Linked DNA regions of Homo sapiens: regions 1, 2 and 3 are each linked to region 4. Evidence: fine-mapped expression QTL. A gene starts in region 4. Each other region holds a variant in brackets. All regions are shown on one strand. Distances are from middle to middle.

What was found. PIP is the estimated chance that this variant, and not a neighbour inherited with it, causes the effect.
Region 1: its variant is fine-mapped to the expression of KALRN in whole blood (TOPMed, PIP above 0.99).
Region 2: its variant is fine-mapped to the expression of KALRN in esophagus mucosa (GTEx, PIP above 0.99).
Region 3: its variant is fine-mapped to the expression of KALRN in regulatory T cells (Schmiedel 2018, PIP 0.92).

What each region holds. Positions count from the first base shown.
Region 1 is chr3:124,700,492-124,708,316 of GRCh38, forward strand. It overlaps KALRN (kalirin RhoGEF kinase), which reads left to right. Exons shown (of 60, transcript NM_001388419.1): 57 at 1,547-1,625. It overlaps LOC124906276 (a long non-coding RNA gene), which reads right to left and starts at 532. Exons shown (of 3, transcript XR_007096039.1): 1 at 358-532. The variant T/C (reference allele first, on the strand shown) is at 3,694.
Region 2 is chr3:124,580,874-124,588,698 of GRCh38, forward strand. All of the region lies in intron 34 of KALRN (kalirin RhoGEF kinase), which reads left to right. It overlaps LOC105374076 (a long non-coding RNA gene), which reads right to left and starts at 3,686. Exons shown (of 4, transcript XR_001740872.2): 1 at 3,601-3,686. RefSeq lists a silencer at 3,910-4,089. The variant A/T (reference allele first, on the strand shown) is at 3,534.
Region 3 is chr3:124,654,384-124,662,208 of GRCh38, forward strand. KALRN (kalirin RhoGEF kinase) reads left to right here. Exons shown (of 60, transcript NM_001388419.1): 39 at 1,218-1,284; 40 at 3,065-3,168; 41 at 3,351-3,420; 42 at 4,048-4,134; 43 at 4,982-5,074; 44 at 6,540-6,590; 45 at 7,468-7,545. Among named protein-coding and RNA genes, the nearest start is that of UMPS, 72 kb to the right of the region's middle. The variant G/A (reference allele first, on the strand shown) is at 3,423.
Region 4 is chr3:124,029,089-124,036,913 of GRCh38, forward strand. It overlaps KALRN (kalirin RhoGEF kinase), which reads left to right and starts at 4,281. Exons shown (of 60, transcript NM_001388419.1): 1 at 4,281-4,725. The coding sequence starts at 4,653. RefSeq lists a silencer at 3,797-4,256.

The sequences.
Region 1 (7,825 bases), 670 kb after region 4:
CCCAGAATTTCTTTTTTCAACATGGGTATAATTTTATGTAGATTTGTTGAAAAAGTAACTAAGATACACATATAGCTAGCTAAATATGAGTATTTTACAAATAAGGTTCTTATTTTGCCCAAAACATCTTCGTCCCAGGGACATTTTGAAAGAGAAAACTTGGCTATCCTAAAGAAATCTCCAAATGGTGAGATTTTGGGCAGTGCAAGGGAGTGGTCTGTGTGTACTGGGGAGAGCAGTGGGTGGGGGGCAGCTGACTGTACTCGAAAGACCATGGACCTGTGTGCCTTAGGGTTAAGGGAATTCTGGAGTCTCCAGAGGGGTTTGGGAAACCCTCTAAATCACCTCTGCCCCCACCTGAATCCAGAAATGCTCTCCAGTTCCAGTCCCACAGTCAGCCCGGTTTTCTCCCAGTGACTTTGACTTTGTTCCCACGAGCCTGTGACTCTTGCAGAAACCTACGCCCTGGGTCTCTGTTTCCTCAGAATTCAAGATGGATAAGCCGCCTTCAGTCTCAGCCAGGCTGTGCTCTGGGAAACCTGAGGGAACTGGCTCCAGGGTCAGCTGAGCCAAGCTGCTCATGTGACCCCTCTCCTCCCAGGCTGCTCACTTGCTCCAGCCCCGGATGATGCTGTGTGTTTTGCTATTTGTGAACCTTGGTCCCCAACAGATGACACAAATGCGTATTGCTGTGCTTGCTCTGTGTGCGTGTGTGTGTGCACGCGTGCGTGAATCATTGCCAAGGAATTGACACATCACACAAGGTAATACTGCCAAAGAATCTACTCAGGCATATATTGTGGGTTAAGCTAAATCCTTCAGTATACCAGATAAGCTCATTAATGCCTGAGAAGAGCGGGATAAGAAGATAATTTTTTCTTTTTCTTTCTTTCTTTCTTTTTTTTTTTTTTTTGGAGACAGGGTCTCGCTCTGTCTCCCAGGCTGGAGTGCAGTGGCGCGATCATAGCTCATTGCAGCCTCGACCTCCTGAGCTCAAGTGATCCTCCAACCTCAGCCTCCTGAGTAGCTGGGACTACAAGTGTACACCACCATACCTGGCTAGTTTTTGATTTTTTTGTAGAGACAGGGTCTTGCTATGTGGCTCAGGTTAGAAAGAGAAATTTCTAAAATGTCTTTTCCTTTTCTCCTTTCTTGACCTTGTAACTTTTCCCTTCTCTCTCTGCATCCTCCTTACACCCCTGATTTTCACGAGCTTTTCTAGGTCTTCAAAGTGTTCTTTTATCCCTTTTAAATTTTTCTCCTAAATTTATCTTATAAAATATCCATAAGTCATATTTCTGATTGTACTGCGTTTTCCCTTTGTTTAAGTAGATGGGAGAGAGAAGCTGACTCTGTCATGTCAGTTTCCCCTTGGATGATTTTTTAAAATAACATTCCAGAGAATCATGGCATTTTCCCACTGAGTCAGACTCCATATTTGGTCATGAGAATTGCTTTGGGGTTACTCTGGAGCTTTTCTGTTAATTTTTTCTTTATTCTTATATGACATCCTCGATATTGTAAATGGATTCTCTTTCTTCCGAAGATGCTGCTGCTGATGGTGCCACCATTTCTTGGAAGGAAAATTTTGACTCAGCTTACACTGAGCTGAATGAAATTGGAAGGTAATGACACAGTTTTATATTCCTTCATTCATGAACACCTAGCAACATCACATCAGAACAGTAACTTTTTGTTGTTGTCATTGTTTATTTCTTTTACAAATGCAATTCTCTCCATAGCAAGAAAAAAACTAAAATATTCGTTTGTATTTTCTACTGTTCTTTTTCTAACTTCTTAAGTTGGATGCTTCATTCATCAGTTGTCAACCTTTCTTCTTTTCTAATATAAGAAATTAAGGCCCAAAATTTTCTTCAAAGTACAATTTTAGCTATAGGTCCTGAGTTTTGATATGCAGTATTTTCCTTATAAGTTATATGTAGTTGTCTTCAACTGTGAATTTTTCTTTGACCTGGTTATAATGGAAACATGTTTTAATATATATGAGATTTTTAAAGGTATGAGTTTTTTTAAAGTATCTTTTTATTACTGATTTCTAACTTAATTTGCATTGTGGTCAGAAAATCTATATGGTACTGATTCCTTGGTTTTTGTTTGGACTTGCTTTATGAGTAGTACATGGTTACTTTTTGTAAAAATTTCCACATGTTCCTGGGAAGACTGTGCAATCACTAATTGTTGGATATACATCTCTATATTGCCCGTGTACCAAGCACATTAATTATTTTATGAGTATTTCTAATCCCAATCCTCCCCCTGCCACACACATACACTCCATACCTTTCTCTTTCTCTCTCTTTCTCACTTGCAGTATTTTGGTTAGAGAACATTTAGTGTGTCCTCAAAAATAAAACAGATAAAAATATGACTTTTAACAGAAAAATTAAAAATCTATCACCTGGCCCACAAAATAGTCTATGGGAAAGAAACAAAAGGCATTCATCCCTATGCATGCTTTGGTCTCCAGGTGGTCTGTGTGAGGGAATGTAGGTAGATCTTACAGGTTGCCCACCCGTAAGATCCTTCCCCCCGGATGTATAAATAAAAGAATACCCACTAACGATGGGCCATTGACATCATTTCTAGCTCTGATTAGCATTTCTCAGTGAAGCATAACATTTTTTAACTGACGTGGTTGTGACCGACGTTGTAGAGGAAACCAAAATGGTCCTTCTGCCTGTGTCTTAGGCAGGAGTCACAATATCATTCACTGCCTTCCGTTACAGCACCTTTCATCAAAAACAAACTCTACCTCTCCTTTCCTGTCTTCTTTGTGTAGCCAAACAGAAGAAAAAAAGCCAAGGAAATTTATGTAATGGTGATGATGATAATGATGATCTCAGTATCTATAGTATTCTAGATACTAAGCAGATACTATATACAAATGTTATTTTTGTTTGTTTGAGCTCTACTGCTTAATACACAAACATTATTTAATTTAATCCATACAACACTATGAGATACTGTTTGAGCAGATTTAAAAAAAAAAGATAGAGATCGGTTATTGCTATGTTGCCCAGGCTGGTCTTGAACTCCTGGGCTCAAGCAATCCTCCTACCTCAGCCTCCCAAAGTGCTGAGATTACAGGCCTGAGCCATTGCACCAGGCTGAGTATATTGTCTTTTTGTCTTCTTTTTTCTCTTTTTGAGACAGGGTCTGTCTCTGTCACCAGGGCTGGAATGCAGTGGCAGTATCATAGCTCACTGCACCCTCAATCTCCTAAGAAGCTATCCTCCCACGCTTGCGGGGAGGATGATCAGTCTTCCAAGTAGCTGGGACTACAGGTGCACACCACCATACCTGGCAAACTTTTAAAAGAATCTTTTGTTGTTGTTTTGTAGAGATGGAGTTCTCACTATGTTGCCCAGGCTGGTCTCAAATTCCTGGGCTCAAGCAATCCTCCTGCCTCAGTCTCCCAAAGTGTGGGATTACAGGTGTGAGCCACCCATCTCACCCAGCCTGAAGTATATTTTCAGTAAAGGAAACTCAGGGTCAGGGAGGTTAAGTAACTTTCTTAAAGCCCCACAACTAGGAGGTGTGGAGCCAGGATTCAAATTCTGGGCTACCCAACTCCAAGCCTGGTCTTGTTTTACTAGCATATATTGTTTCTCATCATATCGATTATTGTCCAAAATAAGCTCTAGTAACTGAAATCTAGTTTGCTTTATTATA[T/C]TGAAATTTGTGAAGCTAAACATGACCCCCAATAATGGGCCGATTAAATCCCCAGCTAGTTCTAAATGAAATTGGTTTCATCACCCGGATGCCCCAGTTAATTCCTCCTGGAGGCATGTGTTTGCTATTATTAGCCATAGGTTAAGTCATGTTTTAGCTAAAACAGATGGCTGATTTGATATTTCTCAAAGGGAAGATCAATTTTCTTATCTGTTCAAAAGTAATCGATGTTTTTGTTTTAAAGTCTCTAACAGCCTGAAGCTTGTCCTCTCTCCTAAGAATAGTCCTTATATTTTCAGAAGATCTTTTCAAAATGTTGTACATTAACAGAATGGAAATAATACATGGAAATTCTTTTTTTTTCTTTTTTCTTTTTTCTTTGAGACAGGGACTCACTATGTTGCCCAGGCTTGAGTGCAGTGGCATGATCACTGCTCACTGCAGTTTCGACCTTCCAGGCTCAAGTGATCCTCCCACCTCAACCTCCCAAGTAGCTGGGACTACAGGCGTGAGCCATCACAGCCAGCTAATTTTTGCATTTTTTTTGTAGATACGGTATTTCACCATGTTGCCCAGGGTAATCTCAAACTCCTGAGCTCAAGCAATCCACCCACCTTGGCCTCCCAAAGTACTGGGATTACAGGCGTGAGCCACCCCACCAGGCCCAAATAATACATGGAGATGTTAATGTGAGACACAGGAAAGATATCTGTGCCAGGGCTGTAGAAGTCAATCGACTTGCTTCATCACACCTAAATCTGGAATTCTGGGCCTTTGTGACTATTCTGTTAAAAGGAGTGCTCTGGTAATTAAATACTATAAAAAGCCACAGTGCAGGAAGATTCTCTCCTACAGCACATCCATAGAAGGAAAGGGCACTTGAGTATGGCGTGTTTAACCAGGAATGAACTATACAGGCAACAATGCAGTATAGAGAAGGCAGGGGATTGTCACTGGAAATGCTGACCCATTGCCTATACCCATTGCTATATAAAAAGGTAGCAGTACCAGGCCTCCAGGTCAGATGGCAGGTTGAACACAGGCATCTATCTTCACTTCTTCCTAAACTTCATTGAAACTATAATGCAGGGTTTATTTTATTTTATTTTATTTTTTTAAGTAGGCATATAAGAATGAGGACATTGGAAGAAGAGACAAAAATAAAGTATTATTTTCACAGAAATACAGATGTTTTTCACAGAAATTCATGTTTTTCTTCTACAGAAAAACAGATGAAAGAATGATAAATGACCTTCAAGACCTGAGTGAGTCAGTCAGTCATGGGGTCAAATGAGGGCCAGTATAATTTTTGCAGCAGAATTACCCAAAAGCTCAGGTATTAGGAGCATCACGTACCTCTGGAAGTAGGTAAAAGGAGGATGCTAAAATTGAAAGGATTGGCTGAAATTTTTTGAGAAGTTGAGTCTCAGAAGGGAGTGAAAACTGATGTCTGTGTTCAGCCTGCCATCCTTACCTGGAGGCCTGGTCCTGCTACAATTTAGATTCTATACAGGCAACCAGTCAGCATTCCCAAGGGATAAGCTGGCTCCAAATCTGCTCCCCAGCTTCAAGTATCTGTGTGATTGTCTTTCTTCATCCAAGAAAAGACTGGTCCCTCCCTTCCTTCCTTCCTTCCTCCCTTCCTTCCTTCCTTCCTTCCTTCCTTCCCTCCCTCCCTTCCTTCCTCCCTCTTTCTCTCTCTCTCTTTCTTATTTCTTTGTTTCTTTTGTTGTCGTTGTTGTTTTAGGACAGGGTCTCACTCTGTCACCTAGGCTGGACTGCAGTGGCTCAATCATGGTTCACTGCATCCTTGACCTCCTGGGCTCAAGTGATCCTCTTAGCCTCCCAAGTAGCTGGGACTACAGACACACACCATTATGCCCAGCTAACTTTTTAATTTTTCATAGAGACAAGGTCTCCCTATGTTGCCCAGGTTGGTCTCGAATTCCCAGTTTCAAGCAGTCCTCCCGCCTTGGCCTCCCAAAGTGCTGGGATTGCAGGCATAATCCACCGTGCCTGGCCTGGAGTTTTATTTTCTGGAAAGGGAAAAATGGAGCATCCCTGCCCTTGGGGACACCAGGCACAGTTGAAGGCAGTGGAGCCATTCTGCAAACAGGGACAATATGAGAATGTATGCATGCTGGGTACTCAGAACCCCAGCTCTCTTATCCACTGGACCTCCAGAGGTTGACAGCCAGGGTTTCACCCTCTAGGCAGAAAGCAGAGGGCTCTTTCTCTGGGAACTCTAACCAGCCCAAAAGGAAAGACTTAAAGATACTGATTGTGGAGCTTTCCCAACTGAGCAGTCTTGTCAAATCACTCTGTAGTAAAGTAAAAGGTGACAGGCTTCACCCACAAGCTCAGAGCTTCTAAACATCTTTTTTCTTTTTCTTTTTTTTTTTTGAGACAGAGTCTCGCTCTGTCTCCCAGGCTGGAGTGCAGTGATGCAGTCTTGGCTCACTGCAACATCTACCTCCCAGGTTCAAGCGATTCTCCTGCCTCAGCCTCCCGAGCAGCTGGAATTACAGGTGCCTGCCACCATGCCCGGCTAATTTTTGTATTTTTAGTAAAGATGGGGTTTCTCCATGTTGGCCAGGCTGATCTCAAACTCTTGACCTCAGGTGATCCGCCTGCCTCAGCCTCCCAAAGTGCTGGGATTACAGGTGTGAGCCACCGTGCCCTGCCACCAAACACGTTTTTATTCCTGAACTTTCAAAATGAGCCAACTCCCAATGCCACCCAAGATAGAGTAAGCCCACTGTAGCCTTTATCTCCCACTGATTACAACCAGAATCCCTGGACAAGATACAAAAAGCAATACCTGGGTATCAAATTAAATAATAGAGATGAGAGTGGAAAGACAAAAGACTTGGGCTGGGTGTGGTGGCTCACGCCTGTAATCCCAGCACTTTGGGAGGCTGAGGCAGGAGGATCACTTGAGCCCAGGAGTCCAAGACCAGCCTGGGCAACATGGCGAGACTTCATCTCTACAAAAAATAAAAGAAAAAACTAGCTAGGCATGGTGGTGCACACCTGTAGTCCCAGCTACTTGGGAAGCTGAGGTGGGAGGATTGCTTGAGCCTGGGAGGTCGAGATCGCACCACTGCATTCCAGCCTGGGCAACAGAGCAAGAGCCTGTCTCAAAAAAATAAAAGGAAAGAAAGTAAAGTAAAAACTTGAAGAATGGCTAATGACAAGGAGAATAGCAGTTTCCTTCCTTCCTTCCTTCCTTCCTTCCTTCCTTCCTTCCTTCCTTCCTTCCCTCCTTCCTTCCTTCCCTCCTTCCTTCCCTTCTTCCTTCCTACCTTTTTTCTTCTTTCCTCTTTTCTCCTTTATCTCCCCAGCTTTGATACAAGTGTGGGCCAAATCAAAGAACTATGTAGCATGCACAAACAGCAAAAACTCCAAGAAAACCCCACATTTCTGGCCAAAGGACAAAGAAAAGGGAACCCTTTGAGCTGGAGAGAACAGAATAATTCATGCTTAATTGTTTTTTTGTGTCTCCTTACTGTCACTGCTTCACCCCGAGGGCAGTCATGTGAAACTGCATGACAATGCAGGAAGCTAAACCTCTGAGGGAATCCCATCTTTCTGGCCAGACAACTTCAAAAAGGGGCACTTGGGAGATAAAGAATGCAGGGGAAATCTCAGGAGAAAGCAAAAGAAGAAGATCTCCTAATTCTATATGAAATGACTCAAATCCTGGGCCACCTTCCAGCTGTGCTTGTATGAGGCACATCCAAAGAAATATAGCAAGGCTCTGAGAACTGGACTATGATGTAAACCACTGCTCAGTGACTGTTTAGTCTCAGACTAATCTTTGTGTGGTGCTCACAAGGGGCAGACCTAAAAGCATAGTAAACACTGAAAACTGAACTGACAATAGAACCACCTCCCACAGAAGGTGAGACAGAACTTGCAGTCTGAACCTAACCAAGTTGATTGCTGACCAAAACATACAAATAAACCAAAAATCAAACTCCTCCAGAGGATTTTAACAGAATCAGTCTCACAACATAACATTTGAAATGTTTGGGATACAATCTAAATTTGTTCAACATTACAAAAAGCAGAAAAAACTTAAAAAATTCTCGGGAAGAAAACAATCAACAGATGCCAGCTCTGACATGAT
Region 2 (7,825 bases), 550 kb after region 4:
GAGGGGGGCAGATCGCTTGAGCCCAGGAGTTCAAGACCAGCCCAGGGAACATGGCAAAACCCTGTCTCTATTAAAATAATAATAATAATAATAATAATAAAGGAAAGGAAAGGATTTCCTTGTTAGGTTATAGACATTGGCTAGTCTCATTCTGGAAGGCATGTAAGGATGGCAATGGGACTCTTGGGTTATTGGTGTCTAACCCTAGAATGAATCTCCATGATGGCCAAAAATGTGTTGACCTTGCCAACTTAAGATAGGAAGAGGTTCCTAATGGTTTTATGCCTTTAAATTGAGAGTAGGATGAATTCCTGGGTTATAAGAATTAGTAGAGGCTGGGTATGGTGGCTCACGCCTGTAATCCCAAAACTTAGATGTGCATGGTGGTGCACGTCTGTATTCCCAGCTACTCCAGAGGCTGATGCAGGAGAATTGCTTGAACCCGGGAGGCAGAGGTTGCAGTGAGCCGAGATCGTGCCACTGCGCTCTAGCCTGGGTGACAGAGTGAGACTCTGCTCAAAAAAAAAAAAAAGTATCGGTGGAAACATGCCCAGTGGATCCATTTTGCCTATAGTGGACTACTTTAGGGTCTACTGGTATTTGATTTCTAAAGTAAGAGTTGGGTCTTTCTCAAACATGTAACTCAAGCCAGTTTCAGCAGGATGAGATGTCATTAGTCTCTTGCAAAGAATTGTGACAAAAAAGTGATCCAGTGTTATCTGAACACAAAAACCAAGAGGGAAGATTTGAGTAAAAAACAAACTGGTTATTCCCCATGAAATTTTGAAGCATCTTTGAATTCCCATCATAATGCCCCCAAAGTGTAAAAAGAGAGGGATTGGGTGGGTAAACCAAATATTGAACCTTGGACCATAGCATCCATACTATGGATCACAAGCAAATAAAGTTAATTTTTACAGACAGTTTTGGTCTGGGCTTGCAAGAAAAACAAAATAGGTATTGTCTTTGGTGACATGGAAGAGAGAACTAAATAATAGTGCTGGTTGTTGTGGGTCAGAACTGGAACCCAGGATAACTATGTGAGGATTAAGGATCCTGCAGTAATTCAGTCTGGCAAAATGAGACTGACCAATTATCAGGATGGTCAGTGAATCAGGAATCTTGGGTGCAGACAACATGAGCTATTTTTTTTTTTTTTTTTTTTGAGACAGAGTCTCACTCTGTTGCCCAGGCTGGAGTGCAATGGTGCGATCTCCGCTCACTGCAACCTCCGCCTTCCGGGTTCAAGCAATTCTCCTGCCTCAGCCTCCCGAATAGTGGGGATTACAGACATGCATCACCATGCCCAGTTAATTTTTGTATTTTTAGTAGAGATGGGGTTTCACCATGTTGGCCAGGCTAGTCTTGAAGTCCTGACCTCAGGTGATCCGCCCACCTTGGCCTCCCAAAGTGCTGGGATTACAAGCGTGAGCCACTGCGCCCAGCCAACATGAGCAATTTGAACTGTAATTTCTCTGTTTTTGTATGTGTTAGAAAGAGCACCAGAGATTCATTTCCTGCTTGACAGTGACGTTCTTATGTAAACCTTGCCAAGAGAAACCATCAGGGAGATGGCAGTAGCAGAACTAGAGGGTAGATTTTTGACTTTATGTTCTACTGTTCCAAAGGGGTGAAGCTTTTTAGAGCTTTTCTTTAGAATTAAACCATTAAAGCCTCATCATAGTTTATTAATTCAGTTTCTTCAAAGGTAAAACAGGACACTACTTTACAAGGTTTTTTTATGAGGATAAATGAGATAGTATATGGAGAACATGGAGGAAACTGCTTAGCATATAAATGCTCAATAAATGTAAGCTATTATTACTCATTAGGTCATGCTTCGATCATTTACTGGTATCCCAACCATGTGGCAGATGCCTTGGCACATTTTTTTTGGGGGGGTTGAGCTGGGGGGGATGGGGTCTCACTCTGTTGCCCAGGCTGGAGTGCAGCAGCACAATCATGAGTCACTGCAGGCTTGACATCCCCAGGCTCAAGTGATCCTTCCACCTCAGCCTGCCAAGTAACTGGGACCACAGGTATGGTCCACCAAGCACCGCTCATTTATGTACTTATTCATTTATTTTTATTATTTGTAGAGACAGGGCCTCCCTGCATCGTTCAGGCTGGTCTTGAACTCCTGGGCTCAAGTGATCTGCCTTGGCCTCTCAAAGTGCTGGGATTACAGGCATGAGCAACCATGCCTGGCTGTCACATAGATAAATAAAGCACAAATCTAAGCATGGTTCCAACTGGGAAAGGAAGCCCCAAATCCTGGTAACTTTTAAAAGCCTTGTCCCATGAGTGTGTTTCTTCCAGGAAGGCATTGGTTACCTGGGTGATCAAGCTTCTGTTTTTCATTCCTCCCACAAACTTCCCTTTTTTCTGATGAATGGGCCCTCTTTATGAGTGTTGTGTGTTTCCAGCAGGCCCTTTGCCCTAAAGCTGGACACAAAGGAATGGGAGAGACACCCTGTGAGTAATACAGTGGTTCATGGAAAGGTCCCACTGATGTGGTCCAAGTGGGCTTCAAGGGGGTTGTGGAAAGCAAGCTTGGCCTTGAAACATGAAAAAGATTTAAAAGATAGGGATAGGGATATAAGTAAAGGAATGATAGGTCTACTGGGCATATTGGGCCGAGGGGATGGTGAATGGAAGTCTTGCACCGTAAGTAAGATGTTCGAAGTTTCTCTGTAGGCATTCATTCACCTGGAAATATTAAACTTCACCTCTGTAACAGGATGTTAGCCCAGAAACATGGCCTGAGAAGGGAGGAGGACTGGTTCCTCAAAGACAAGTCAAGGGGCTGTTACAAAAAGAAAAGGGGACAGTTGCCAAATAGGCAAGGAAAAAGTCTGAATCTCAAGTAGGTCTCAGTGTGGTCCTATACCAACATCAGCATCACCTGGGAACTTGTAGCAATGCAAATTCTCGGGCCCCACCTCCTACCTACTAAATCAGCAACTCTGGGAGACATCCATAGATATTTTTAAATTCTACCATCGGCTGTATGTGGTGGCTCACATCTCTAATCCTAATGTTTTGGGAGGCTAAGGCAGGAGGATCACTTGAGCCCAGGAGTTCAAGACTAGCTGGGGCAACATAGCAAGACCCGAGACCCTGCCTCTATTAAAGAAAATTTTTTAAAGAAAATCTACAACCGTGGAATATAGGAATTCTTTTACATTTTTTTTTTAAATGGGGAAACTGAAGATAAAAGGTGAAGTGACTTGCCTAAGTTCAAACAGCTAGCAGGTGGCAAAACTGAGCTTTGAAGGTTGGTTGTATGATTCCAAACCCAGAGTGTGTTTTCACGTCATTACAGTTGGAGAGCTGATCAATATGAGGCACTGTTATCATTATTAGTAATCAGCATTACACGGAAGGAAAGGAAAGGGTTGGGGACGGTGTTTTCAATACAGAGGAGGCTGTGGGGAGGGAACGGGTGAGGCTGCGAGGAAGAAAAGGGCATCCTTGAGTCTTGGAGCATCTAAGTCTGCCCCTCTCTTACCTCTTTGGCCCCATCTAGTTGT[A/T]TTTTTTAAGCCAACGCCCATTGTGGTGGCCTTTGAAGGGAGGAAGTTGCACATAAGGAGTACCTACCTGTTTGGTGCCAAGGGCTCAAACTCCACCCGTTTGCCCCGTGCCCACAGCGTTGGTGCCACAGGCAGCGTTACATGAGGCTCCGGCCGCTGCTGGCCAGGTCTCCTGCCCACAGCTGGACCTTGGAACTCCGCCCCTTAGGCCCTCCCTCCCCGCCTGGCCCCTCCCCGCTTCCCAAGGTGGCAGTGGCTCCCAGTAAGTCAGAGCTGCGGCCGCGGTGCGGGGAGAGCACAGCGGGGAGGGCGGGAGCCGGCTCTCGGGCGGCGGCGCTGAAGTTTCCTTCCCGCCGCGCTCTCACCCCGGGCTGGCGCCCCGTGCCATGCGGGAGCGCTGGGGCGGCGGGGCAACATGAAGGGCGGCGACAGGGCTTACACCCGAGGTCCCTCTTTGGGGTGGCTCTTTGCTAAGTGCTGCTGTTGCTTCCCGTGTAGAGGTGAGTGGCTGTCGGCGGCCTTGGTGCCTTCTGTTAGCCAGACTGGTCGCGCTCAGCGCGAGGGAGGGTGGTAGGGAGGGAAGGGTTGGGGAGGCCTCTGGGGTAGGCGGATGGGGCTGGGGATCAGGAGGGCGGCGAAGTGAGAGAGTTTGCTGCGATCCGTTTCACAGTTTCCCAGACAGAACGCGCGCGCTCGCTGGCTGGCGGTGAGGTTCTGACTTGGATGCGGAGCTGCTGTTTGGGAACTCAGTCACCTAGCAGCGACTTTGGATGTCAGGGCGCCAGCCTGCTAGGGAGTGGGATGCGGACGCGGGGGTGGGAAGGGGACGCAGAGCCGCGTGTGTCCCTATAGTGGCGGAGAAGTACCTCACCTCTCATTTACACATGGATCTCAGCTGCGGGATTAACGTGTGACTCCTGGCTACAGGAATGTGTTTGACACCTGTCTGTACACCAGGAACTATTTTTGCCAAGTGACAATTTTCTCGTGGGACTGGAGCACATTTTTTTCTGCCTGGGTTTTCACAGGCCAGCGTGGATTTGTAGCTCCGGGCCGGAGCTTGGCTCATTAATTAACAACTCTCTCTGTGCCCAGTTAGGACTGTATTTAATTATTCTGCTAATCTTAACGTCGTGGAAGAGACTTGCAGGAAGCAACCAATTTCCCCCAAAGCAGCCGGCGAACAGGAGGGCGAGAAGGATCACAGAGGGAGGGTTCTCAATTGTGTGGCTTCTTCTGAAAAAAAAAATCAGAACCTTCCCAAATAGGATAAGCAGATGCTCCTAAGGCTGTTCATGTCACTTTAACACACGCTAGGATAGCGGGGGAAGACTGTTTTTGTGTGGGTAGAAATGAGAATGTAGCCCCCTACTTGACATTTGCCCTTTTAAAAAGTTTCACCTTTTGGGCCTCTGGCCTCCACCCCCATTTACAATACCCCACCCAGTCTCCCATCCCATCTGCTATGCAAAATCCTAATGGAACTTTCTGGCTGAGTTACTGGTGAATAAACTTCATCCAAGCCACCTTTCAGCATCCTCTGTGCCACAAACACACAACATAGCCCTGAGAAATTTTCTATCCTGAGCAGATATAAGGTTACCAAAACTAATTAAATCTGAATGACTTTTCCTGCGCGTCATTAAGGTCATAATCTTAGCATCAGATGGTCTCAATCTCTGTATTTAATTAGAGCAGCCTGGAACCGTGTGGTTTTGAGCTCTAGAAACCAGAATTCAGATGAAGAAGGAATGTGAGGGGCCAGGGACCCTCTAAGTCTGATTCAGAAACATTCAAAACCAAGGCTGGGAATTGAGGGAAAGGGGGAATAAAGCGCGGAGGAAGCAGGAAATGGCCAAGGGGAATCTGAGTGGGTGGGTTCGCTCGAAGGCTGCCCTGCTTTCCCCGCAAAGAGTTTCTCTGCAGGATTTCTTGGGAGTCCGTTTCCTGTCAGACAGAATGTGGGGGCTGGGGTGGTGCTTATCTGAAGTCCCCACAGCTGCCTCCTTGAGTCCAGATGTGTGACAGCCCTGGCTGCCCTTCAGGGTAACTCTCTGGGCGTCTTGCTGGCCCTTGCTTTGTTGAGGAATTGCCCGACTTTCACTCTCGCTGTGATGCAGGGGAGGGCTGGGGAGCTGGCTCCAGGGCCTGGTAAGTGCCTCCTGCCTAGGGCCTGTGAAGGCAGTGGCTGCTGGCTCCGTGGCTAGGAGAGGAGGCGTGCGAGTGGCTATCGTAGGAGCGGGAGCTGAAAAGGCTAGCGACCCTCAGATGAAGACTGAGGGAGTCAGAGGTCCAAGCAATGAGACCAGTTTAAAAGGGAAAAGAAGGGTGGCAAGGTGGGTGCCCGGGGCCTTCTCCTGCTTTACTCCTCACTCCCCTAGATCTGAAATGTGTGAAGATGAAAAACGGGCTCATCAGAGGACGATGGTGGGGGAGGTGAGTTAGCCACTCTCCAAAGAAAACTCCTGCCTGTGGCTAGGCTGGGGGTCGTGTCTGAGGTGTTGGGCATGCCCTGAGGCTCCCTCAGGCTCACTCTAACCGAAAACAGTCTCCACTCAGCCTGTAGGCATCAATTTGAAAACAGATTGAAAAGATAAGGTCTGTATTGAGCCTGAGTGCATGGCCCAGAGTCCGTGGACTCTTTGGGAAGAGGCTTGCCCAATTGCAACACCCAAAAGGGCTGAGGGGAGAGTCTTGAGGCTGTCTCTCAAGTGGAGGGTGTGCACTGCAGGGGACTGACTGCCTCCCTTTTCAGTTGAACCAGTTCCTCTGGTCTTAGGGAAAATACAATGGAAAGGCAACCTCCACACTCCACCTTGTAGATAAAGGCGGCCGGTTGTTTGGTCTCTATCCCTTCTCTCTCAGGGAGAACTTGGCTGTCTCCTGCGGCTTGAGTAGCTTGACTCTGAAGCAATGACTCAGAGCCCACTGCTGTGGTTCCCAAGGCAAGGGGACTTGACCATCTGACTTCCAGTCATGCAGGATTTAAAGGATACCTCCTTCTAAAGTCTGAGGAAAAGGACAAAAGTAAAAGAACCAAGAGGAAGTGGAATGTTTTGGCTATTTTTGACTTGAAGCTAAGTGAGCTACATTGGGATTTCTCTGGTGAATTCTGAGTGGTTGTAATTGTCATCACTAGGGTCAGAGTCAAGGATTTAGATAAAGTACCTGTGTGGTCTTTAAATATCACATTTGAGGAAAATATGGATGAATTTCACTGAACTTATCTTTTGATTTGGAAGAGTATGGAAAGCGACTATCTTGTATTTTTCCCTCCACCCCCACCCTCCACTTTTTTTTTTTTTTTTTTTTTTTTTGATACAGGGTCTCACTCTGTTGCCCAGGCTGGAGTGTAGTGGTTTGATCATGGTTCACCACAACCAGGATCTCCTGGGCTCCCACCTCAGCCTCCCAAGTGGCTGGGACCATAGGTGCATGCCACTACCCCAGGCTAATATTTTTATTTTTTGTAGAGACAAGGTCTCACTATGTTGCCAGGCTGGTCTCAAACTTCTGGGCTCAAGTGATCCTACTGCCTCAGCCTCCCAAAATGCTGGGATTACAGGCGTGAACCACTGCACTTAGCCTTTTTGGTTCTATTGAGTATGAGTACAGAAAGCAGGTTTGATGAAAGATGATTTTTCTTCCCTATCTTGAAACTGGTGTTGAAAGGCAGGAAAACTGAAAACCAAGGATAGAAAGGAAATAGATATCGGGTAAGAAGGAAGAAAGAAGGCAAATGCATTTATAACTGCCTTTTTGAAGGTGAAAAACAACCAAAAGTGAGATAATGGCATGCATGTGTCTAAGGGGTGATAAATCATTGATGTCACACTCTGTGGGGAGTTAGTTTTGGGATAGCTTTGACTAGCTAGACTGTCCTTCAAGCCTGAAAAAGTGGGTCAGTTCAGAAAAGATTTCAAATCACCTGGAAATTGCTAAGTTATGTATTGCACTGGAATTTGTGATCAAGGAGCCCAGAGATTTTTCTGACCTTTCTAGGTAGAAGCCAGTTTTAGAGACTTAATTTTGTTTTGAGATGGAGTCTCGCTCTGTCGCCCAGGCTGGAGTGCAGTGGGACAATCTTGGCTCACTGCAACCTCTGCCTCCCAGGTTCAAGCAATTCTCATGCGTCAGCCTCCTGAATAGCTGGGACTACAGGCGTGCACCACCATGCCCGGCTAATTTTTTGTATTTTCAGTAGAGACGGGGTTTCACCATTTTGTCTAGGCTGGTCTTGAACTCCTGACCTCAAGTGATCCACTCCCCTCGGCCTCCCAAAGTACTGGGAT
Region 3 (7,825 bases), 630 kb after region 4:
TTCAGATGAATTGCTTCCTGGGTTAAAAATGGTTACCACCCTTGTGCTGGGGTCCCACTTTGACATCTCAGAACTTTATCATTTCTGCTACTTGTGCCCAAAATGCAATTGTGTGGTCCCAGGCAAAACTCATTCCAATCAGATTGGAAGAGTTTGACTCCAGTAGGTTGCACAGCACCACCCTGCCCCTGTGCACAACTTTAGCATTTTATGTAAAGCTCTTTAGTGTCTGGACAAAAGACAGAAAGAGTGTTTGGGTTTGAGGCTTCAAGGACTCCCAAGAGCCAGTCAGAGTAGTTTACCAAGCAGTGGGCTGCTGGGAAAGAGCATGGTCTTTGGACTCTTGCACAACTGGGTTCAAATCCTGGCTCTGCTACTCACTTTGCAATCATGGTCAGGTTACCTAATCTTTCTGTCTCTGCATTTTCATTTATATAAAATAGGTTTTACAATACCTACCTTATTATAAGCATGGGAAAACCCAGATGAAGGGAGTGGCACATAGTAAATGGTAGAAAGAATTAACAAGAAAGAAACCAAGAGAGCAAATGTCCTTGTAATTGTTAAATCCTGCATCCTGGAGAAGGTAGTGCTGCATTAAATGTGTGATTTTGGAATGTCTGCAGTCCATCTTTCTGGCCTTGACTGGGGGTTTTCCAGGCCAGTTACCATGATACCTATCTGAATAATTGCAGCTTCCATATCTTAAAAACTTCACTTGATATCTATCCTTGTCTTGGAGGACTTACAGGTTGGTAATCAAATAAATGTCTTTCTCTTCTTGTTAAGTGAAGAATGGAGCTGAAATGAAGGAAGAAAAGTCTCATCTTAACCCCTGCCCAGCCTCAAAGCTTTCAGAACGCAGTTTTGCCAAAATGGTTGTCAATCTTTCTGCCCTCTGTCTATACAATCGTTCAGTTGTAGGTGAGGGAGAAACACATGAAGAATAGAAAGAAGAATGCTAGGTACTGAGCGTCATTTTTCGTGTGACTATTGTATGTCACCTGGGGAAGTCCTTTCTGGCCTTGGTGTCCTCAGCCCTTCAGTAGGGCCTCCTCTAGGGAAAGCATCCGTAAGCATCTTTCCCAGGAGATAAGTGTGGGTGTTTTAAGGGGTCTTGTTATAAAGGTGCCAAAGTAACTTTTCTGTGAACTTAAGTGAAGATTTTTGGCTTAACAATGAAGAGGAACACTCACTGTTCTTAATCTCCTGCTCAGGTTTGTCCTGAATGAGCTGGTACAGACAGAGAAAGACTATGTCAAGGATCTGGGCATTGTGGTGGAGGTAAGTAGAGGGTTCCAGGTGGGTCTGTGGTCACCCAACCAGGAGCACGTTGGACCCTACCTAGGCCAAGGTGTTTTAATCTGATGGTTACATGTACTTTACTGTCTGAGCACTTGCAGAAATGAAAATAAAAATGGTAATAAGTAGAATATGTAGGCAATATTTTTCTTTTCCCCTTGAAATAAGATATTTAGAGGGAAGTAGTGGCCTGAATGTTATAGCATTTGGGGGAGCCTCTTGGTTAGAGTGGAACTCATTCCACTTTGTTTTAGGTGACCAAGCTATTGTCTTAAGAGCTTTTCTTTGATGTTTAACTATGTGGACATATATTCTTCAGAGCTATGAGCCACATAGGCATAAAACAGTTCATTCTTAGTGGGATCTTAGGGCTTATACATTTCCATAGATTTCAAGGGTAAGTGTTACAGCTAGCAAAAAGACAGATAAAAGAAAAACCCACCAATGAGCAAGGTTGACAGGTCCACAGTTAAGAGTCGACTTGGTAGTAAATTAAACAAATCTAGCTCTGTAGGGATTCACTTAAGAGGGACTTAGACACTTGGATGAAAAAAAAAAAGCCTGAGAAAGTAAATGGGTAACTTGAATGGCTTAGAGCCCTATTGTTAATCATCTTGAAAGAACATGAAGTCTAAAAGTTCTCGGCCGGGTGCGGTGGCTCATGCCTGTAATCCCAGCACTTTGGGAGGCTGAGACGGGTGGATCACGAGGTCAGGAGATCGAGACCGTCCTGGCTAACACGGTGAAACCCCGTATCTACTAAAAATACAAAAAAATTAGCCGGGCGTGGTGGTGGGCGCCTGTAGTCCCAGCTACTCAGGAGGCCGAGGCAGGAGAATGGCGTGAACCTGGGAGGCGGAGCTTGCAGTGAGCTGAGATCGCGCCACCGCACTCCAGCCTGGGCGACAGAGCAAGACTCCATCTCAAAAAATAAAAATAAAAGTAAAAATAAAACAAAAAAATAAAAATTCTATGCCTAAAGCCTACATTGCCTGCTGGTTCCTTACATTTGGCCTGAGTTCCCATCCTGTGAAATCTGCTGACTTAGGGTTTTGTATTTGCTTATTCTGAATCTTGGATAAACAGATTAACCAGCCATATAGAAAACCTGAATTTTAACTTACGGAAAGTTATTCTTGTCTTTTTGTGGGGCTGGGGGGTGGAAGAGGTACAATAGCTTCCATATGCAGTCCAGCCCAGGAGTAGAGGACGAGGGAATCTGAAGACTGGGAGGCTGAAATGCAGGGAACTCAGACATCAGTGGTGCGATTATGGACAAGTCATCATCCAACACCCAGGTGCCTGGGTTTTCTTGTCCGTCAGATGGGGATAATGCTACCTGTCCAACCTCAAAACCTGATTTTAAAACAGAAATGAAATTCTCTATGATCACATTTTATAGACTATAAAGTATTAACATATTAAGACTTATTTCTAGGCCAGATGTATCTAGTTCTGAGCCTTTATAGACCTGATTAATTTGGATTGGGAGAAGGAAGAGGGACAGCTTATTGTTTTCTTCTGTGCTCTGCTTTCTTAAGGGGACTGGAGACAAAGAAGGGGATCCTGAAACTCATAAAAGTTTTCTCTATTGCTCTGCACCAGGGGTTAAAGACCTGGTTGAATAGTGAGAAACCACAGAAGCATTTGTCCGCAAACTCACGCAGAGAGTGTGGGCTTGCAGGGGTGCTGTGGTGTGTGGCATGGCCCAGAAAGCTTTCCTGTGAAAATATGCTACTAACCATTGCCTTTGCTGCTGCAGGGCTTCATGAAGAGAATAGAAGAAAAGGGTGTCCCTGAGGATATGCGAGGAAAGGACAAAATCGTGTTTGGAAATATTCATCAGATTTATGACTGGCATAAGGAGTAAGTGTTAATGCTGCCCCGAGGATCCAGTGTCCTGGGAATCCAGGACTTGAGTCCTCTTCCTGCATCTGACTCAAGGAGTAGGGCTTAGGGGAGAGTCTTCTGTAATTCATCTTATTATTGAGAAATAATACAGTTCTGAATAATGTGGCTTCCTTCTCTTATCCCCTTTCTCCTTTTAGTTTTTTCCTGGCGGAACTGGAAAAGTGTATCCAGGAGCAAGACAGATTGGCACAGCTCTTTATTAAGCACGT[G/A]AGTGTCTCCCATCACCTCCTCCCCAACTCCTTCACTAGGCTCATTTATATTCATTTTAAAATCCTGGCCAGGCACAGTGGCTCACACCTGTAATTCCAACACTTTAGGAGGCCAAGGTGGGAGGGTGGCTTGACCCCAGGAATTGAGACCAGCCTGGGCAACATAGTGAGGCCCCCATCTCTACGAAGAATTTAAAAATTAACCAAGGCTGGTGGCACATGCCTATAGTCCTAGCCACTTGGGGGGGCGGAGGCAGGAGGATCGCTTGAGCCTGGGAGGTCAAGACTGCAGTGAGCCATGATGGCCCCACCCTGCACTCCAGCCTGGGTGACAGAGCAAGACCCTGTCTCAGAAAAAAAAGTAAATAAAATTTCTTCTCTTCTGCTCTTCCTTGAGTGACCTTCTTTCTCAGCCCTCTCTAAGTTTTTTTGTTTTTTTGACCACCTTGGCGATTTGGAAAGTGGCTCTTGCCCACCACATTTATATCCTTGATATTCAGCTGCCTTGGTGCGTCCCCAAGTGCGCCTTTGTCCTTTGTCCACGTGGAGGCCAGCACGGCACTCTGAGATTGAACAAAAGACACAAGATGCCTGACTGTCCACATGTCTCTCTCTGCTCTTTCAGGAGCGGAAGCTGCACATCTACGTGTGGTATTGTCAGAATAAGCCGCGCTCAGAGTACATCGTTGCTGAGTATGACGCCTACTTTGAGGTAAGCTGTGCAGGCTTTGCTGAACTGGGGTGGGAGGAAAACTCAGGCCAAAACAGCCACTTTCAGAAATACCAGACGTCATCCATCCATATGTGACCCCCACACAGCACCGTTGACCCATTCATGGCAGGAATAGCTGCCTCAACAGAGAAAGCAGCTTCTTAGCTAAATTCTCATGAGCACCTTCACTTGAGAGGAGCTGAGGTGGCCCAGTCTGGGTTCTGATTTGAGAATCCCCCATTTGCAGAATAAGCCTGAACACAGAGATGGTTTGAGAAGCTCCAGTTCTTCTTAAGTGACCCTGGAGCAGACTGTACCCACCAGTCCCCCAGGGACCACTTACTAAGGAGTCTTCTGTTGGTTGAAGGGTTTGCAGCCACTTCCTAGTCTGCTTGGTCTAGCCCAGAAGGATTTATTTTGCTGGGAGAAAGGCAGCATCATCACTTAGAAAAAGCACTCAGCTGAGTGTTTGGAGATCTAAGTTTAGGGCCTGGCTCCATAGGCTTGTGTGTCCTAGAAGAAGCCCCTTTTCCCTGCCTTTGCCCTGAAGTGGTGGAGAGAATAAGGCCCCTCCAGCTTTTCTCCCAGGACTGGGATGAAGACCAAGGTGTGGAAGTACTCACTGTAAAAGCATGGGAGGAAGGCAGGAAGCCAGTGGTGATGTGTGTTATGTGTTGTTCATAACAAGTGAACAGTCCTCTAGGCAATTTTACCTCTCACATTACTTAAAGATTCTTCAACTTCATTGGAAAACATGCAGACCTGTCTTCCATGCCTTTGAACCCTTATTCAAAGCACCCCAGTTCTTCAGTTCCTTTTTCTTCTAATATTGCTGCCTGTGTTTCAGGAGGTAAAACAGGAGATAAATCAGAGGCTGACACTGAGTGACTTCCTCATCAAGCCCATTCAGAGAATAACAAAATACCAGTTGCTCCTCAAGGTAAGAAGCTGGGAGCCTGGGTGAGGGCTGGAGAAGGATCCATCAGGCTCAGAGCAGGTTCTGAGCTAGGGGTAGAGCTAGCGGTTCTGTCTCCACCACACTGTCCCAAAGGACTGTGAACTGTGGGAGGGGTGGTAGGGACGTGGGAACTTTTATCTGACTGCTGGTTACTCTGTCAGCTTTGCTCCCAAATAAACTGCATGGCTGTTCTTCCTACCCTTAAGGTGGGTTGTTACTTGATTTTATTTTTTCAATTCACATTCTTACTTTGTCTCAATCATTGACTTGATACCTTTAAAAAATAAGAAGAATATGATATCAGAGTGAACTACAAGGGAGAAAGAAAGGGAAAGGCAAGGCTTTAGAAATATTAGATTAGTAATACCTAAAATTTGATTTTATATATATATAAAATCAATATATTATATAAAATCAATATATTTTATATATAATCAATATATATTATAAAGTATAATATGTATGTATATATTTGAGGCAGGGTCTCACTCTGTCACCCAGGCTGCAGTGCAGTGACACAGTCATAGCTCACTGCAGCCTCAAATGCCTGAGCTCAAGCGATTCTCCCTTCTCAGCCTCCCAAGTAGCTAGGACAACAGATGCATGTCATCATGCCTGGCTAATTTTTTATTTTTTTTGTAGAGACACGGTCTCACTATGTTGCTCAGGCTGGTCTCAAACTCCTGGCCTCAAGCAGCCCTCCCACCTTGGCCTCCCAAAGTGTTGAGATTACAGACATGAGCCACTGTGCCCGGCCTAATTATATTTTAAACAATGGCTTAACTTGATTCATCTTATGGAACTAGGAGGCTAAATAGAAAAGAGAGACTTAACTTTCCTTTCTCTCCTTTCTTGTCATAATCCCCCTTTCCTTTGTCTTCCCTCCCTCTCACTCTTCCTTCTCCCATAGCTTTGAAATTTTGAGGCTGGGTGCAGTCACTCACGCCTGTAATCCCAGAACTTTGGGAGACTGAGGCAGGTGGATCACCTGAGGTCAGGAGTTTGAGACCAACCTGGCCAACATGGTGAAACACATCTCTACCGAAAATACAAAAATTAGCTGAGTGTGGTGGCACTTGCCTGTAATCCCAACTACTCAGGAGGCTGAGGCAGGAGAATCGCTTGAACCTAGGAGGCACAGGTTACGGTGAGCCAAAATTGCACCACTGCACTCCAGCCTGGGCAACAGAGTGAGACTATGTCTCAAAAAAAAAAAAAAAAAGGAAAGAAAGAAAGAAAAGAAATTTGAATATTCTGGGAGTTCTCTCTATGTTATTACATCTTACATGACTCATAATTTCATTTCTCAGCTACTCTACACCATTGCCACTTCTGCTGGGAAGGAAAGTCTCCAGGGTGTTATTGTATTTTTATGATAAGTTTTTTCCCAGCTATTTTACTAATTTTACCCCTTCCCACACTCTTGCCTGCTTCCCCTACTTGTTAGGACTTCCTGAGATACAGTGAGAAGGCTGGTTTGGAGTGTTCAGATATTGAGGTGAGTTTTCTGCTTGTAATGCTTGCTGTTCTTAGGGACCATATTGGATATCTTTCTCTAGAGGGGAAAAGATTGTCTCAGGAGGACCGTGGATCCAGGTGGACCCCTCTCAGACAGTAAGAGGCTCTTGTAAACAGCTTTGTACCTGCTTGAGGAATGGCAAGTGTTAACACAGTGTTTCCTAGAACTAAAGAAATCTGTCCTGGGGTGCACTAGAGCTTAGCCCCACTGGTGTTCTTTTGGCTCCTGGTGACACATAGTGGGAAAGGGTAACCCCTTAATATCCTTCAGAGATTAGATGTAAGTTGCACAAAAGCCTCAGTATGCAATTTTATTCGTGAAGGCAAGTATTATTTGAGTCAAACATATAAAGTATTCCATTTTCACCTCCCTGTCCAAACCCTGCAGACTACTTCCAAGTGAAGTCCTTTGAGACAATGTCACTATGGGATTATTTTAAGCCAGGGAGGTTACAGACCATTCTGACAGATTATTTTAGTTGAAAACCTCTAGTGTTTCACAAGCCAGGCTAAGCTGTTGCCTGGGCAGCCAGGAAGCAACAGAGAGAAGAAAGAAAATCTGAGAAGGCAAGGGAATTGATGAACAAAAACAGGAAGGTAGGGAAAGGAGGGGCTGAGTAATATTCCCCCAACATATGCTCAGTGACTGACATGGAGCCCCTGTGCTGAGGACCAACACCCTCCCTCTAGAACAGAAAGCCCCACACTCTCTGAGAGTGGACAGCCAGAACCAGCATCCCTTCCTAGAATAAAGGAGCCACCAGAGATGAAGTCCCTGTTTTCCAGCACTGAATTACCAAGAGCTTCCTGCCTGAGTGCTGTTCCCCCTCCTGAGTAACAGTTGTTCTTTCCCACAGAAAGCAGTGGAGTTAATGTGCCTTGTTCCCAAACGCTGCAATGACATGATGAATCTAGGACGTCTGCAGGGCTTTGAGGTGAGTCTTTAAGAATGCGTCTAAGCCCACTCTCTCCAGGACAATAGGAGTCCAGACTGTTGCGGCTTCCTCCCCCTGAAGCCTTGTGTCCTGCCTGTGCCTCCTTCACTCACCACTATGCCTTCCTACCCGGGCCCCTCTGGTTCACAGTCCTGGAAGATGCATCTCTTTAGGAAGTCCAGCAGTAGGGAGGTCATAAGAAGTTACAGAGCATTTAGCCAAACCAAAGTCAGAATTCCAAGGAGATTGGAAAGACCCAGAATTCTTTTTTTTTTTTTTT
Region 4 (7,825 bases):
TGGTGGCTGTCAATTCTTGGTATTCTTTGCTGCTGCGTCACTCCAATCTCTGCCTCTGCCATTACATGGCATTTTTCCCTATGTGTCTCTGTCTTCTCTGTCTTCATATGGAATTTTTTTTTCTTCTTATCGGGACACCAGTCATATTGGATTAGGGTCCATCCTAGTGACCACATTCCAAATTTGATTATATCTGCAAACACCTTATTTCCAAATAAGGCCACTTTCACAGCTACCAGGGGTTAGGACTTTAACATACCTTTTTTGAGAATACAATTCAACCCATATCATGTGGTAAGTTACATTGAATAGTTTTCCAAATGTGAAACCAACCTTGTATATGTGGGATAAACCCACTTGGTTATGATGTATTATCCTTTTTATATATTGTAGATTTTATTTGCTAAAATTTTATTAAAAATTTTATTCCTAATAAATATTCCTAAGGAAGTAGTCTACATTTTTTTTCTTATATGGCCTTTGTTTAGTTTTGGCATCAGAGTAATGCTGGCCTCATAGAAGTAGTTGGGAAATATTTCCTCCTTTTCACTTTTCTGGAAGAGTTTTTGTGGAATTGATATTATTTCTTCCTTAAATGTTTCATAAATTTACCAAAAAACCCATGTGAATCTTGAGTTGTTTTGTGTGTGGGTGTGTGTGGGGAAAGCTTTTAAGCTACAAATTTAATTTCTATAGTAGATAAATAGCTATTTAAGTTAGCAATTTCTCCTTGAGTGAACTTTAGTAGTTTGTGTCCATCTTATGAAAGTTGTCAAATTTGTTGGCATAAAGTTGTTCATAATATTCCCTTATTATTATTTTTACATTTATAGAATTTGTAGTGATGTTACCTCTGTCATTCCTGCTAGCAGTAATTTGAGATTTTTCTCTTATTTTCTGATCAGTCTGGGTGGAGGTTTTTTTATTTTATTGATCTTAAAGAACCCACTTTAGTTTCATTGATTTTTTTCTTTTGTTTTCCTGCTATTTTATTGCCTTCTGCTCTGATCTTTTTTATTTCTGTTCTTCCACTTTGATTTCGTTTGCTCTTACAGTAGAATAGGAGCTTATTGATGGGAGATCTTTATTTTCAAAATAGGTATTTAGCACTATAAATGTCTTTCTGCTTCAGCTGCATCCCACAGATTTAGACTGCCTTAGCTGCATCCCACAGATTTTTATGTAATGTGTTTTCATTTTTATTCACTTTGAGATTCTTTCTAATATCCCCCTTTTAATTCTTTTTTTGGTGGGGGTGGCAGGGGACAAAGTCTCACTGTGTCACCCAGGCTAAAGTGCAGTGGCACAATCTTGGCTCACTGCAACCTCTGCTTCCTGGGTTCAAGTGATTCTCATGCCTCAGCCACCAGAGTAGCTGGGATTGCAGGCAAACGCTACCATGTCCGGCTAATTTTTGTATTTTTAGTAGAGATGGGTTTTGCCCTGTTGGTCAGTCTGGTCTTGAACTCCTGGCCTCAGGTGATCCCCTGGCCTCAGCCTCACAAAGTGTTAGAATTATAGGCATGAGCCATGGTGCCCAGCCCATCCTTTGAATTCTTAGTAGCTCATGTGTTATTTAGAAGTGTGTTATTTACTTTCCAAATATTTGGGAGGTTTTTCTAGATTCTTTTTGTTATTGATTTCTAGTTTAATTCTATTGTGGTCAGAGAACATACTCTGATTTTTTTTTAAAAACCAACTTAGGTATAATTTATGTACCTCTTTGCATGATTTTAATCCTTTTAAATTTATTGAGATTTGTTTTATGGCTTAGTGTATGGTTTATCTTGACAAATGCTACCTGTGCATTTGAAAAAATGTGTATCTGCTGTTATGGAGTGGAATATTCTATAAATGTCAGTTAGGTTAGGTTGGTTGATAACATTGTTCAAGTCTTCCATATCTTTACTGATGATCTGTCTCCTTATTCTATTAATTACTGCATTTTACAGATATTAAATTATCTGACTATAATTATAAATTTTTATATTTCTCCTTGCAATCCTATCAGTTTTGCTTCATGTACTTTGAAGCTATCTTATTAGGTGCAAACACTCTTAGGATTGTTACGTCTGCTTGATGAATTGAAATGTTCCTCTTTATCCCTGGTAATATTCTTTGCTTTGAAGTCTTCTTTGATATTAATATAGCCATGAACACTTAACATTTTAATAGAAGTTGCCAAATTTCCTCTCAAAAAAAGTTTGTGTCATTACATAAGGTGTTCCCCCTTTCTTGTCTATATCTTGAGATTTTGATATGACCCTTCCTCTAAACATGTAATGTTTCTTCTGAATTGTGATGAGCTAATGCCTTGCCAGGCCACTGGTTCTTTAGCTGCACAATGGTGGCAATTAATTAATAGCAGCTCTGCCATCACATATGTGTGTGCGGGGGTAGGGGAGCAGACCAGGGGTTAGGCAAAGGATTAAGGGGAAGGAAGATTTTGAAAAGACAAATGAGAAGTATTTTCATTGTCAGAAAAGGCATAGGCAAAGGGGCATCTTAAGCCAGTTCAAGATACTAGGGCCAGATGAATTAGATCTCAGGGCAGTGAACTTGTGATGTCAGAGTCACTACAGAGGTCTGATAGATGTACTCAAGGTTGGAGACAGGTCTGATAGGTGTATCCAAGGTTGGAAACAGGTACTTTTTTTTAATGGGTGAAAAAAAATTAGACTGTTTGTGTCAGTGAAGAACGTGATGCGTACAGGGAGCCAGAAAGTGTTCACTAAAAACTAATTTAATTCATTTTATTTGCTACAAGTTTACACAGTTGGTGGATCTGCATAGGCCCCAGTTGCCTTGGCCCCCAGAGAGAGGTGGAACCAAACAGGTTACTAGAGACAAACAGATCCAGGAGATTCTGTCTGATGGGTTGCAGTCATTAACTTCAGACCAGTACCTGGTTTTCCTATTAGGCGTGTTTTAACACATTAGGTCAGGCCACCACTTCTCCATCTGTCTGGATGAGGCAACAGCGAACAGCGCTCAGCAGACCTTATTAAGTACTCAGGTCTTAAAGACCCTCTGTTTGGTGGGCTCTGTAGTCACTAGAACCATAAACACACTACTGGCTAATTATTGTTTAATTATTGCTTAAAAACTGATGGGCACAATACAATCACCGCATTAATTACCCCATACAGCATCTGTTTTCTTTTTTGCAGCCATCCCCATTCCTCCCCAGCCCCTCTCCCCACTTTAATTGAAATTCAGCTTGCTGTAACACCTCCTTCCTCCTGGCCAACTGGATCTCTCCATTCACATGAGGGAGAACAAAACCGAGAAGGCCCCAGGGATTAGAGAGTTTTGACAGCTGTCCAAGAGGAGCGCGGAGATACGGGCCAAGTACGGAGGCAGGACAGAGACAAACGAGGGACAAGAGAGTGACGGAGGGAGGGAGAGATAGGCAGGGAGACATCACAGGAGCATTAAACTGGACAAAGAGTCACAGAGACAGGCGGAGATGTTTAAAGGGGCGCTGAAAAGGGGAAAAGGACGAGAAAAGATAAAAAGGAGAGAAACTGTGGCGAGCTGGTGAGGAAAATGTGAGAGGCTCAGGAGGGCAGGGAGACAGAAGAGAGCTCGTCAGGAAGGAGGGGAAGAAAGGCCGGCCTCTAGGGACAGGTCAGTCCAGCTTGGAGACCGATCTGAAGATCCAGAGAAGGCGGGCGGGCAGCCTGGTGGTCCCCTCACACACCTGGGAGTGGAGTGGACGGAGGAGGTGGCCGCGGGGCCGGGAGGAGCACCGGCGGCGCGAGCGGAGAAGCTGAGCGCGCAGCGCCCGGGCCGCAGAGCCCCCTGGACAAGCCTGGCGTGTGCCCTGCAGCCCCGGGCTCGCCCGGCGGCCCCGCCCCCTCCCTGGCCCGGGCTTTTCCTGCGGAGCTCAGGAAGCCGGCCTAGCACAGCCTCGAACAATAGCTCGGGACTCGGGCTCCGCTCCCCGGGAGGCCGGCGCGGGGCCGCTGGGACTGGGGGCGTAGGCGCCGCCGGGGGCCCGCAGCGAGCCCTCGGCCCCGGCCGGAGCTTCAATTCAGCTCGGCGCTCCCGGGGTCATTGTTGGCCGGGACTGAGGGAGCGGGAGCCGGGGGAGGAGCTGGGGAGGCGGCTGCTGCGGCGGCGGCGGCGGCGGGAGCCAGAGGGGGAGCTAGAGAGCGAGCGAGCGAAGGAGGGAGGTAGCGAGTGAGCGAGTGAGCGAGGGAGGGAGGAGGTAGGGAGACAGGGAGGGTGGGAGGGAGGAGGAAAAATAAAGAGGAGAGAGCGGAGCAGGGCTGAACAATAGAGACAGGCAGACGGGCGAGCAGGAGAGCCAGCTGCCGCTGCTGGGGGACAGCGGGCGCCCAGGCAGCCCGCACCCCGGCCCCGGGCCCCGGCCCCAGCCAGACAGCAGGCGGCCAGCGCCCTGGGGAAGGGGTACCATGGGGGAGCTGGCGGCAGGCACCCCCAGCCCGCCGCGCGCCTCCGCCTGAGGGAGGCTCAGCGTCCTCTGCCCCAGCCCCGCCGCCCAACGCCCGCCCTCGAAGCTCCGCGGCCGCCAGCTCTGCGGCCGCAGCAGCTGCGCCCCGCGCCCTCCGCCCACCGGGCGCCGAGCAGCCCTCGGCCCCAGGCTTCTTCGGCTCCCGGCTGCCCGCGGACGCCCTCCCACAGTCATGAACCCCCCTGAGGGAGCAGCGGAGGAAGGAGGAGCAGCAGACTCGGACGTGGACGCCTTTTTCCGGACAGGTAAGCCGGGCAGGGCGCGGGGGGCCAGGGCTGAAGGCTACTGCCTCGGACGCGGCGTCTCGGACAAGTTTGGGGAAGGAGGGCTGTTGCTGCCGCGTGCGTGTTGGGGGGCAGTGCCCCCTCGGCGTCGGGGCTGGAGTTGCCGAGATTCTGGTTGTTATGGCAGTGCTGGCTGCGTCTGGGGAGGGCGTGGGGGCTGGGAACTCCGCGCCCCTCCGCCTTCACCCCAGTTGCGGGAGTCTGTGTTGGGGAGGTGGGAGGCGGTCCCCTCGGACCGCCTTCTCCCAGAGCGCGGGGATGGGCGGTGTTGGCTCACTTTGCAGCGCGCCGCTCCGGCTACCGGCGTCCCGGCCCCTCCCTTGGCTCCCCCTCCCCTGTGCCTGTCAGCGGGGCTCCCGGCGGCCGCCCTGGGTCGGCACCCCTCCTCGCCGTCGGGGGCCCGGGGCCCTGATGTGCACAGAGGGGCGGCGGGGACCCGGAGCCGCGCCGGCTGCAGACTGACAGGAGTGGGGCGGAAGACATCGGTCTCGCCTGGTGCGTGTGGGGAGCTGGTCCCTCTGACTTGAGAGGCAGACCCAGCTGGGAGGGCGGTGGGCGCCTCGGACCTCCCCCTTGTCCTCCTCTTCAGTTCTGGGAACGGAGGAGCTATTCATAAGAATTACTCATTCCTGGAAGTGTGAGTTAGCGTCCCTCTCATACACACCCACTAAGTCTCTGCTTGCTGTGAGGTGTAGAGCCCTGAGATGTCTTTCTAGCTCTTTGCGCCCCTGCCATCGTCCAAGTCCCGGGTCCATTGCTCCTCCTGCTCCCTGGCTACACAGTCCCTCCCTAGAACCGGCACTGACCACCCTTATCTTCCACCACCTGTGGCCCTGTTTCTCTGATGGCCAGGGATTCCCCGTCTCCCTGTACCTGTGGCTTCCACCAGCTTCTGTGTGTAGCTCCCCATCTCCCCACATGTCTGAAACAGTTTTGTCTGGAATCTTTGTCCCAAGGAGTCCAGTAAGTTACCGGGGCCCCATGCATCTGCTCTCCCTTCTGGAAAGTTGGATTAGAGGACATGAACTGGTGGGGGTCAGGGGTCAGGTTAGCTCTGGAGGGTCTCTGCACATCCATCTGTTTCCTAACCCTGTTACCTTGCCCTGGAGGTCATCTCTAGGGAAGGGGGTGGGGTGCTTTGCGGGGGAGACTTGTGGCTTTGGAAGTCAAGACTTGATTGGCTCATATGTTCATTCTCTAGTTGATGTGCAGAGGAAAAAACTGGAGGACAGGAGCTGGTGCCAGGGTCTGGGGAAATCAGAGGGAGCCCTGTCATTCTATTCTGCTTCCCAGGTCTAAGCCTTCTTTCCTTTTCTTTCTTCCTCCTTCCTTCCCTCCTTCCTCTTCCGAGACATGGATTCTATTTTCTTTCTTCTCTCTCTCTCTCTCATACACACACAGCCCAGCACCCAAAAGCATGGATTCTAAAGAGGTGGAATCTAGGGAAAAGGTGGTTCTGGGGGCTAAGTGATATTCAGAAATACTCATTATGAGGCAGAGGAGGGGAGATATGGGAATTCATAACTGGGACTAGAAACAAATTGACCAGTCAATCAAAAACCCAGCTGACCCCCCTTGCCTCCCAACTGGGGCAAAAGTCTGCATTTTCTTAGCTCTGAGGGAAAAATCTTGAAGTGTGAGCCTTCCCACCTTCCCTTTCTGGACTCCACTTTTACCTTTTGGTGCCCACTCCTCTTTCCCCTTTCCTATCATCCAAACACTAGGTCCTGTTCATTTTCTGTTCCAGGCACCCGTAGCAGAGCTCAGTTCCTGGAGGCTTGCTTATTTCTGATAATAAATTCACACAGTGTTAATGGCCAATAATAGTCCAATGTGTTACTTTTCCCAGGGCCTTTCAAAACACAAGGTGTGGCACACATTATCTAACCCTGGCTCAAATCACAGAATAAATAGCAGACTGGGGTCAGTCTCCTGTGGGATTCCTATGTTGGGGATATTCTCCCTCCTCCTTGGGCAGCCCAGTGGCTGAGCTAAGTCTGATGTGCACTTAGTATCAGAGAAAGGTTAAGTCATTGGTGCATGAGGCTGGAAATGACTGATGACCTGTAACATGTTGCAAGAGGGGGTAGGTCAAGGACTACATCCACCCTGTGTGGCCCTCTATGCTTGGCTCACTGACTGTCACCACACTTCTGGTCTCTAGCCTAGGCTCTTGCTGGGGATTCTTCTTCTTCTTTTTATTTTTATTTTTTGTTGTTAATTTTTATTTTAGGTTCAGGGGTACATGTATGGGTTATATAGATAAACTGTGTGTCACAGGGGTTTCGTATACAGATTATTTCATCACCTTGGTAATAAGCATAGTACCTGATAGGTATTTTTTCTGATTTTCTCTGTCCTCCCACCTTCCACCCTCAAGTAGGCTCCGGTGTTTGTTATTCCTCTCTTTGTGTCCATGTGTTTTCATTGTTTAACTCTCACTTATAAGTGAGAACATGAAGTATTTGGTTTTTTGTTCCTGCGTTAGTTTGCTTAAGATAACAGCCTCCACCTCCATCCATGTTGCTGCAAAGGGCATGATCTTATTCTTTTTTATGGCTGCATAGTATTCCATGATGTACATGTACCACATTTTCTTTATCTAGTCTGCCATTGATGGGCATTTAGGTTGATTCCATGTCTTTGCTATTGTGAACAGTGCTGCAATGAACATATGCATATGCGTTGGTGGAGATTCTTAAGCTTAGAAAAGCCATGTTTCTAAACCTTCTCCCTTCTGATTTCCCATCTCTGTGGAATATAGCACTATACCTGATAGGCTGGATAGATTATAAATGTATTCTATTGAACAACTGAGAAAGCTTCAAACAAATTTTCAAAGTCCCTAGCACCAGGGTTACCCCTTTCTTTCTGATGGAAAATTTTGTATGCACAAGGACCAAACTGGAAATTGCTTTGTCAAAATTCTGGCATACTGTGCTTCTAATTAGGCATGTTTCAAATTATTCTGTCATTTTGGTTCCTTGTTTGTCCTCTTCTGATCATTTTGGTGTTTCAATCCCTTGACCAATTGGTTAAGCTAGATTCCCTAAATCTCACT